3 linked regions of the Homo sapiens genome follow. The protein of the gene in region 3 purifies or fractionates together with the protein of the main gene of each other region. This does not show direct contact. Each region holds a gene or a part of one and is shown on either strand. Other genes may lie near its edges. The genes, in order: GLI3, EOLA1 and KLHL7.

Region 1 (3,655 bases), about 19 Mb from region 3:
TCTACATTTTGCCTATTTGACTACAATCCATAACAGGCAGCTTCAATGGGATTACATTACTATCATTCCTGCAGAGAACCTTACATTACAATAGCTTGCCCATTTAAGACTGAATATCATTAAGAATACCCTAGGAGAATTTCACCAGGCTTTGAGAAACTCTCCTTTCATTCTACATTGTATTTCCTTAATAAAGGAAAGCAGAAACGTGGTGAAAACAGTCATTGTTCACAGTAAGTTAGGGAGAAATCAGTAATAATATTCCGTTTCTGCAGCGTTATAGTTACTGCCAGTGTTTCCAAAAGCAAGCATGAATGATTATGGCAAGACTTAGCTAAGGTAGCTGTGTGGATGATTGATAGGGCATTAATCAAAAGATGCATATCTGCCTCAGAATTTGTTCACAAGCTTTCTTCTAATAGCTGATTTCATGTTCACTGAGCTCTATGCCAGTTTGTCCAATTTATTTTTCAGTGTACAAGCCATTCATCAAAAAACACAATGATTTAACAGCCCCCCTTCCTTTGGGTGAATGAGTATTACTAAGTGTAACTACGTTATTCTATTCATTAAATAAACAAAAACCAAAATAACCCACTTCACATATAATTACCATGGCACACCGACTTTGCATGTATCTCCAAACACCTTTCCAGGGTTCTAGGAGCCTAGACTATCTGGCAGAGTTGAAAGAGGGTCCCTGAAGGTCATTTATACTTCTAATTCTGGGAGACACGACATTTGGGGGCTTAAAAAATCAGTACTTAATTAAAAATAGAGACCATTCAGAAAACATGCCCTTGATTTTATACAAAAGCAACTCAAAAGCATTCACAGACGGATAAGGGAAGTGCATTTTAAAAAAGATGTAGGAGGCCGGGCGCGGTGGCTCACGCCTGTAATCCCAGCACTTTGGGAGGTTGAGGCGGGTGGGTCACCTGAGGTCAGGAGTTCGAGACAAGCCTGACCAACATGGCGAAACCTCGTTTCTACTAAAAATACAAAAATTAGCCAGGCGTGATGGCATGCACCTGTAATCCCAGCTGCTCGAGAGTCTGAGGCAGGAGAATCACTTGAACTGGAGAGGCGGAGGTTGCGGTGAGCCAAGATCGCGCCACTGCACTCCAGCCTGGGTGACAGAGCAAGACTCCGTCTCAAAAATAAATAATAATAATAATAATAATAATAATAAATAAAAATAAAGAAATAAAAAGATGTAGGAGATATCCTTACAAAAGATAAGACTCAGCATTCCCACCGCAGTTTCCTAGGTCTACGATCCTCCTTGTCCTCGGGGAGCAGGGGTAGGGGTTCTGAAAGCTCTTCACATACTTTGGCCATATCCCCATTCAGGGCCTCCACCTTTTTGCTGGTAAAACCAGGTGACGGGAATAAATGTTCTCTAAAATCCACATCAACAATTAGACTGCAAGGGCTATGAGGGAACACACAGTGGACGGTGATCCTGAGCCTTCAGTGCTTATTCATAAGAAGCCAGCAACAGAAACATTCTCCTCCTCCTCGTGCACAGACCTGGGCCAGGGCAGGGTATGGGACAGCTTGTCTGGACCCAGAAGGGCTGGCCCTCGACCTTCTGCTGCTGCTCCTGCCAGGGACTGTGCGCAGGAAGGCTGCTCCACTCCAGATGACAAAGCCAATTTAGAATTTGATGACAAAAGTAGAAAGTTCTCAGCTCTGACACAGTATCACTTAACAGATTTGGGAGTCAAGGCTCCTCTGCTCTCAGAACACTGCCATCAGAGTGCTGGGGCAGAGGACGGGCGATGACTGGGCACAGCAAACGGATGTCAAGAGTCGCAGACAAAATGCCCATGAGAAAGGATGCCTCCCACGCATACCCTCAACTCTCTTGGGCAAGATCAAGGTATGAAAAGATTCTCCTGAGGTTTTCCCACTAGGGGGATAAGAAAACCTGAGCCACCACAGCCTCCTCCTTTAAATCAAGGTGGGGAGGGCCGTGGAGGAGGGGAGTCCTGCATCCTTTTGCCTCCTGTCACAGCATGAGTCCCTCTGCATCTTCAGCACTCACAGTGTCCCCTGCCTGGAACCCTTGGCTTCCAGAGCTCACAATGGCCACTTCCTTTTTTACATTCACGTTCCAGCTTAAATGTCACCTCCTCAGAGGGGCCTTCTTAGACTCATGCCCCATCAAAACGAGGCCCCTCTGCACCTCCTTGCCCCATCGTTTTCTACTGCGTGACAATTCTATTCTCATGGCAGCACGCAGTACTCTCTAAAACTCTTTCTGTCTCTCTGTCTAGGAGGCAAGGTCCAGCTGGGCCGGGCAGTGTGCCTGGCAGAGCAGACACGCAGTACTGAGTCAATGAGTGACTGAATCCATTCTTCAGTGTCTATTAGTTCCCTGTTGCTGCTGCAACAAACAGCCCAAACTGAGTGGCTTAAAAAAACAGACACTGTTTATTACCTTACAGTTCTGGAAGTCAGAAGTCTGCAATAGGCCGGCGGGGCTGCATTATTCCAGACGGTCTAGGCTCCCTGCCTGTTCCATTACCTGGAGGCTGCCCACATTCCTTGGCTCAGGGGTCCACATCACTCAGGCCTCCTCCTCCTCCTCCTCTGACCCTAACTTGCCTCTCCTGCTTCCCTCTCACAGGGGACCCTGTGATTACATCACTGCCACCCGGATAATCGAGGATCATCTTCTCATCTCAAGATCCTTAGCTTAATCACACCTGCAAAAGTCGTTCTGGCATGGAAGGTAACCTATTCACAGGTCCTGGGGATTAGGATGTGGACATCTTTGGGGCCGTTATCCTGCCTACCACACTCAAAAGAGTCACCTCAAAGAAAACTATGTTTTCCTCTGAAAACTACAATTTGACAACATGTCTGTAAAGCAGTATTACACAAACGAAGCTAGTGTCTACATCCATTTCTTTCTGCAGCACTTCAATGGCACAGGACAGACTTTGCTGATTAAAGATATCAGAATTAAAAACAGAAGGTAAATTCTATTTTTAGGGGCCCTGAATAAGAACCTTCCTAAATAGTTCATGTATTCATTCCACAATTTCCTACAAATAGAAATTATTACTATTGTTGATTTGTTTTTTTTTTTTTTGTTTTTTTGTTTCTTGTTTTTTTTTTGAGATGGAGACTCGTTCTGTCTCCCAGGCTGGAGTGCAGTGGCACGATCTCAGCTCACTGAAACCTCCGCCTCCCAGGTTCAAGCGATTCTCCTGCCTCAGCCTCCCGAGCAGCTGGGATTACAGGCATGCACCACCATGCCCAGCTAATTTTTGTATTTTTAGTAGAGATGGGGTTTCACCATGTTGGCCAGGCTAGTCTTGAACTCCTGACCTCAAGTGATCCGGCCGCCTCGGCCTCCCAAGGTGCTGGGATTACAGGCATGAGCCACCACACCCAGGCATAGTTGAAATTGTTAATAATCTCTTATACCTTCTCTAGAGCAGGACATAATCTACAGTCTAAACCTTGGTACCTGTGCTTCCCATCCTCATAGCCTCCATGTTTCTGTTCACCCCACTCTTTCCAATGAGTCACCAGAAATTAATTTTACATTCTGATTCTGAATTCTCTGCATTCAACAATTAATCTGTTATTATTTCTAAAATTACTTTTATAGCTTTTGTTTCTAAATAACTATATGAAA
Region 2 (2,565 bases), on a different chromosome or scaffold from region 3:
GCGGTTGCAGATTGGAAGGGCACCAGCCACTGCCTGGGAAGCTACAGGTGATGCCTGAGCAGGTCACCAGGGGACAGATGCTGATGTCGGGCCTCAGTCACCTAGAGGTTAGGGGACTTTCCCAGGGTGCTGTGAGTGGTGGGGCTGGGGCAGGTTCATGAAGCCAGGCGGGCAGCCCAACTCTAGAGGCCACCTGACCCATTCGGCGGGCTGGGCTGCTTTTCATGGTCTCTGCCACACATGTGCACTCACACATGTATGTGCAAATACACACAGCCAAACACCACAAACACCATGTGCACATGGCCCTGACCAGGCTTCTCACTGAGATCAGAAACAGGAACTGAGGCCCAGAGTGGAGAAATGATTTACCAGAACTCGTGGAAGCCAGCCATACCAACCCCCAGCCCAAGGTCCTTGCCGCCCCTTTGAAGGTGTGTTGCCAAAGGAAACTGTGTTATACACGCCAATCAGTTCAGATGACAAGAGAAGCCCCCAAATTCCCAAGCAAGATCTTGGGCAGCAGCCCTAGGCGTTGTCTGCGCATTTGGTACATTGTCACTTACCCGCTATCACTCCTCGACCAAACTTTTCCCCTTTCCTGAGCAAGGCCTGAATCTGAGCAGGAGTCATCCCGAGTCTCTCCACCAGCAGCTCCCGCCAGGCATCGCCTTCCCAGTCCCTGTGAGCAATGTGGACGGCGATGGTACAGTTCCGCTGGCTGCTCAGCAGGGGACGCCAGCGCGTCTCCACAGTCTTGATTCCATTTAAGACAAAGCCAGCATAAGGCTGCCGGAAGGAGAGGCAGCCAAACTTCATCTTCGCAAGCGCCCCGGGCCTCCCGTAGCCTGCGGAAGCACAGAAGCGCATCACACGCCAGCCCTCCAAGCTCATGGGCAGTGGCCTGACCTTCCCCCCGTGTCTCTCAGGTGGCCTAAATCGCACTGACCTTGATGGTCTCCTGCTTCCGTCTGTCACTGATGTCCAGCACCACAGCAGGCCCAAGGGAAGGGGCTGGGATTCGGCTGACTCAGGTCCATCCCATGGAGTCTTTGGGGCGGTCCGGAGTAGGGCGGGGACAGCTAGAGGAAGGCACAGGCAGGATACCATGTGGTCAGTGCTATGACAGAGGTCACCGAGCCCTAGGGCAACACAGAGGACAGAGGGCCCCCTTGGCCTAGCCAGAGTGGAGAGTCCGGGCTGGTGTTAGCCCTCTTCCAGCACAGAGGGAGAGTCCCACCCTCTGCTTCTCTTCCCTTTCCCCTGCTGTGCCCTGCCAATACTCTCAGTGCCCTGGCCCTGCCGCCACCAAGGCACTGACCTTCCCAGCTCCTACTCCAGGGCTGCTGAGCCCACATCGTTGATATCCAATCTCAGCTCTGTCCTCAGGATGCACCGTGACCTCAGATGGCCCTCAGTCAGACATCTCCTCTCCACCCCTCTGGGTGCCACCTTCCTCAAGCCCCTTCCCCTACCACTGCTCTCCACTGTCAGCAGATGCCCCTGTCCCAATCTGAGCTGAGAAAAGAAGAATGATAATCAGAACAACTAGCAACCCCACACACATGCCTTCCACGTGCCAGCCTCTGGGATGGCATGATCCTCGGATCATCAAATTGAATCTTCAAGTAACCCAGCAGGGTCAGTGGTACTGTGAGGCCCACTCTATGGCTGAGGAGAATGAGGCACCAGCCCACAGTCACACGGGCTCTGACTTCCCACAACTCTTGCCCAGCCTCCTGCGTGTCTGGCTTGGGAGAGGGTCCCCTCCTCTTGCATGGAGGACGGCCCTGTGCCTTGGAAGGAACCCTGGGCTCGAAACCAGAACCTCAGCCCAGTCATAGACTCTTGAGATGCCTCAGTTTCCACATGGCTGTGAGGAAGGGAGATAAGGCACCAAGAGCACCCAGCCCAGTACGTGGCACCTAATAGAACAGTCAGAAATAGTGGCTGCCCTCACCCCTCAGGCCCGTGGCCCCGCCCCCGGCCCTGAACTCCACCCTTGAGCTGCCCCTACTCCTCTCTCTGTCCTTCCTTTCAACACATAAACGCAACCTCTAGTACGCTCTATGATTTTAAGAAAATATACCCACCCTCATGAGACAAAGCCCTGATAGGGCCAAAGCTGCCTGGTATTCACTCCTTTCCCAGTCTGCACTGCAGCCTTCTGAGCTCCAGATCTCCTGCTTTTCTCCCGCCTCTGGGGTGAGCTGCCTCAGCTGAGCCGGTTGCCTGCTGTGCTCTGGACCCTGCTCCTCTGGCTCACTCCGGGCCCTGGGTGCCACCAGCCACCATCTATGCTCGCTCAGCATCCCTACTCTGAGCACACGCGCGCCTCCCACTCTGCCTCCCTTCTCTACAACCCTGAACAGCCGAGACCTCAGAAGAGCTGTCTACATGCGCAGTCTCTACTTCCTCTCTGAACCTTCTGCCCCCACCCCCACCTTTCTCCCTTTATTCCCCACCCCCCCCACCACCCACTCCACTGACTGACCTATCCCCACAAGCACCCATGGCCGGCCTCATGCCAGTCCTGTCTTCATCTTAGTCCATGCTCAGCAGCCC
Region 3 (3,655 bases):
TGTATATAAACTTTTGAGTGTGCTAGGGTCAGTGGCATATTTATGACCTGGACCTTTCCCTTACACCAGAAATGGCTTGAACTTACACCCCATGGGAACCTCTTTCTTTCTGGTTCTGCGTGCAATAAATGCCTATGAATGAGACACATCTGATTGATTCGTCAACTCATAAAATGTTTTTGTTTGAGCGGTCAGGAAATGTAGAGGAGGAGGGGGGAGTTTATGACCAGCAATAAATTTATCCTTAAGTAGAAATATTAGATATTGGCTCATGGCATTAATAAATCATGCCTCCCTAGTTCTTTTTAGGTGTAAACTTCCTAAGTACATTTAGATTCATGTTTATTAAATAAAATTATTCTTAAATCAACTGCTTTTAAAAAGGCAAAGTGTGTCAAAAAGGTAAAATGCTAAAGAAATAACTGGTTAGCCAGTTTTTCTGACCTTGTAGTTAATGATGGAACACATTCAATGTAGCCAAAGGAAATGTGCTAATCATTGAATAATGGAGAGGGCATGAGGGCACGGGTTGTGAGTAGTGACATTAAAGCTGATGAGGACATAAAACAGATGATACCCTAGTCGTACCTTTTATGGAAACATCCAAAGAGCTTTGATAAGAAAAGTCACTTGATCATATGGCTGGATTGCCCATCGTTCTTCCCTTACTAGAACAAGTTACTGGGTGAATACGTTCACTAAAATGCTATGCCAGAGTTGCATCAAAACTCTCGTGCTTAAAGTTTTATATTTAGGAAATATTGCCAAACTACAAAACATGGAAGTCTTCAACTCCAGCTACTGCTTTTTTTAAAATTAAGAAATAAGATGCCAGGCATGGTGGCTCATGCCTATAATTCCAGCACTTTGGGAGGCTGAGGCAGGCAGATCACTTGAGGTCAGGAGTATGAGATCAGCCTGGCCAACATGGCAAAATCCCGTCTCTACTAAAAATACAAAAACTAGCTGGGTGTTGTGGCGCGTGCCTGTAATCCACTACTGGGGAGGCTGAAGCAGGAAAATTGCTTGAACCTGGGAGGCGGAGGTTGCAGTGAGCCAAGATTGTGCCACAGCACTCCGGCCTGGGTGACAGAGCAAGACTCCATCTCAAAAAAAAATAAAAAATAAAAAAATAAGAGCTTAATTATAAAATATGATTAATTATGTGCATTTATCTATGATTCCCACATATTTTTAAAAGATTTAAGGAAGCATAATCAATAACTTCTTTCCAGTGCAAATAATAGAAAAGCAAGTTGTCTTGAAATTTGTCTTTTGCTAAAGATGTTTACCAACTTTGCTCCCTTTTATGTGAACCTCTACCTTACTTCCCATAAACCCTAGGCTCAAAAAGTGTTACAGCATACTAGTTGGAAAACTGATTCATTCTGCTAATTATTTTTTATTTCTAAAAAATCTCTTAAAAGAGAAGCCATAACCATAAAAACTCTAGGTTTCTAAATTTTTACATCTTTATTCAGGCACTATCAATGTAAATTAATATTGATTTTTTACTTACTTTTTTGTTCAAAGTAAAAATATAAAGGAGTTCTGCAGCTTCTGTATTTTTTAAAACTAGGTGAATATTCAGTTTCAGGAATATTTAAAAACTTACAAGACCTAGCATTTCTTTCATTTTATATATATTGAGCTTAAATTTGAATTCTCTATGTTCCCTTCAATGCCCTTAAATTTTCACAAATGAAAAGCTAGTGTGAATATAATTATCCAACTCTCAAAATAAATGTTATATTATTTCCTTTTAAAAATGTTACCTAGTCCAGGTGTGGTGGTTCATACCTGTAATCCCAGCACTTTGGGAGGCCGAGGCTGGTGGATCGTCTAAGGTCAGGAGTTCGAGACCAGCCTGACCAACATGGTGAAACTCTGTCTCGTCTAAAAATACCAAAAAAAATTAGCCGGGCGTGGTGGCGCGTGCCTGTAATCCCAGCTATTCAGGAGGCTGAGGCAGGAGAATCATTTGAACCCGGGAGGTGGAGGTTGTAGTGAGCTGAGATCGTGCCATTGCACTGCAGCCAGGGCAACAAGAGCGAAACTCTGTCTCAAAAACAAAAACAAAAATAAAAACAAAAAGTTATCTAGCCAGCCAAGTTTTTTTTAATAAGAATTTCTTCCCAATTTTGACATTTTAAGTGTTTGATAATTAGAATGTGTTTAATTGGAAGCTGAAAAACTAAGCCTATGGACCATAGAAACACAAATAACACATGTTGTCACTCATGTGGGAGCTAAAAATGTTGATCTCATGGAGGTAGAGAGTAGAATGATGGTTATCAGAGGTTGGTTAACAAGTACAGAAATACAGTTAGATAGGATAAGTTCTAATATTCAGTAGTACAGTAGGGAGACTATAGTTAACAATAATTTATTGTATATTTCAAAATAGCTAGAGAAGAATTGGAATGTTCCCAACACAAAGAAAAGATATTCCTCAGCAGCAACATGGGAGGCCTGGGTTCCTTCCCTAGCCCAAAAAGAAACAAAAGGAAAGATAAATGTTTCAGGTGCTGGATATCCCAGTTACTCTGACTTGATCATTACACATTGTATACATGTGTCAAAATATCACAGGTACCATAAAAATATGTACATGTATTATGTATCACATTTTTAAAATCAGTTTTAAAAAAGATGGAGAGGAGCAGAAGCTCATAATAAAGTAACTGAAGAAAGAAAGAAATTATGTCTATGGAAACAATGTGACACAGTTTGAGCGGTCAGAATTTTAAGAAATGACTTTTTTTTTTTTTTTTTGTGAGACGGAGTCTCACTCTGTCACCATGCTGGAATGCAGTGGCACGATCTCAGCTCACTGCAACTTCTGCCTCCCAGGTTCAAGCGATTCTCCTGCCTCAGCCTCCTGAGTAGCTGGGATTACAGGCGCACGCCACCACACGGGCTAATTTTTGTATTTTCAGTAGAGACGGGGTTTCACCATGTTGGCCAGGATGGCCTCCATCTCTTGACCTTGTGATCTGCCCACCTTGGCCTCCCAAAGTGCTGGGATTACAGGCGAAAAAACGCTTCTAAACATTAAACTTCAGATTGCAGATAGCGGGGACCTAGTATGTACTCTGCATGTGAATTATAGGAGGAAGGGGAATTTGTGAAAGTTTTTTCTAAACCTTCAGGAGATTTAGATATACATAAAGACATGCTGTCTTTTTATATCATTAACATTATATTTGGAGAAGAAAGTGGTATGTAAATGGAATTTTTCCAAGTCAAATACTGTGTTTTAATGCATGATGATAGCTGAGTCTATAAATCTCACTACGTGCAGGGCAGTGAAGACCTAGTTTTTACTGCTGTCCCACTTCCGAGCTGTATGCCGGTCACTTCACCTGGATGAGCGTGTGTGTTTTTCCTAAAAACAGGAGCCATGCTGTCCACCTCACCTTAACAGAGAACTTTGAAAATGAGAGTGGTGACTGTCAAACCATTTTTAAAACAATACATAAATGTAAGACAAAAGAATTGTTAATACTTCAGAGTTAATCATTGTGCCTTAATTATGTTTTATAAAGTTGAATTCATCAAATTGTTTTTTGTTTTTTGAGACGGCGTCTGCCTCTGTCGCCCAGGCTGCAGTGCAGTGGCGTGATCTCAGCTCACTGCAAGCTCCGCCTCCTGG

Evidence for each region.
Region 1: the proteins of KLHL7 (region 3) and GLI3 purify together in Homo sapiens (affinity purification with mass spectrometry, with the first as the bait; one large-scale study listed by BioGRID). This does not show direct contact.
Region 2: the proteins of KLHL7 (region 3) and EOLA1 purify together in Homo sapiens (co-immunoprecipitation; one large-scale study listed by IntAct). This does not show direct contact.

Annotation. Positions count from the first base shown.
Region 1 is NC_000007.14:42,027,608-42,031,262, forward strand, and holds part of GLI3 (transcriptional activator GLI3), read right to left. Parts: intron 1-3,655. UniProt on the Homo sapiens protein: Has a dual function as a transcriptional activator and a repressor of the sonic hedgehog (Shh) pathway, and plays a role in limb development.
Region 2 is NC_000023.11:149,543,885-149,546,449, reverse strand, and holds part of EOLA1 (protein EOLA1), read right to left. Parts: exon of another isoform or gene 1,359-2,565; coding exon of another isoform or gene 1,322-1,358; intron 1,083-1,321; coding exon of another isoform or gene 950-1,082; intron 849-949; coding exon of another isoform or gene 820-848; coding exon 567-819; intron 1-566. UniProt on the Homo sapiens protein: May play a role in cell protection during the inflammatory response. In epithelial cells, negatively regulates IL6 production and apoptosis through the regulation of MT2A expression.
Region 3 is NC_000007.14:23,168,150-23,171,804, forward strand, and holds part of KLHL7 (kelch-like protein 7), read left to right. Parts: intron 1-3,655. UniProt on the Homo sapiens protein: Substrate-specific adapter of a BCR (BTB-CUL3-RBX1) E3 ubiquitin ligase complex. The BCR(KLHL7) complex acts by mediating ubiquitination and subsequent degradation of substrate proteins. Probably mediates 'Lys-48'-linked ubiquitination.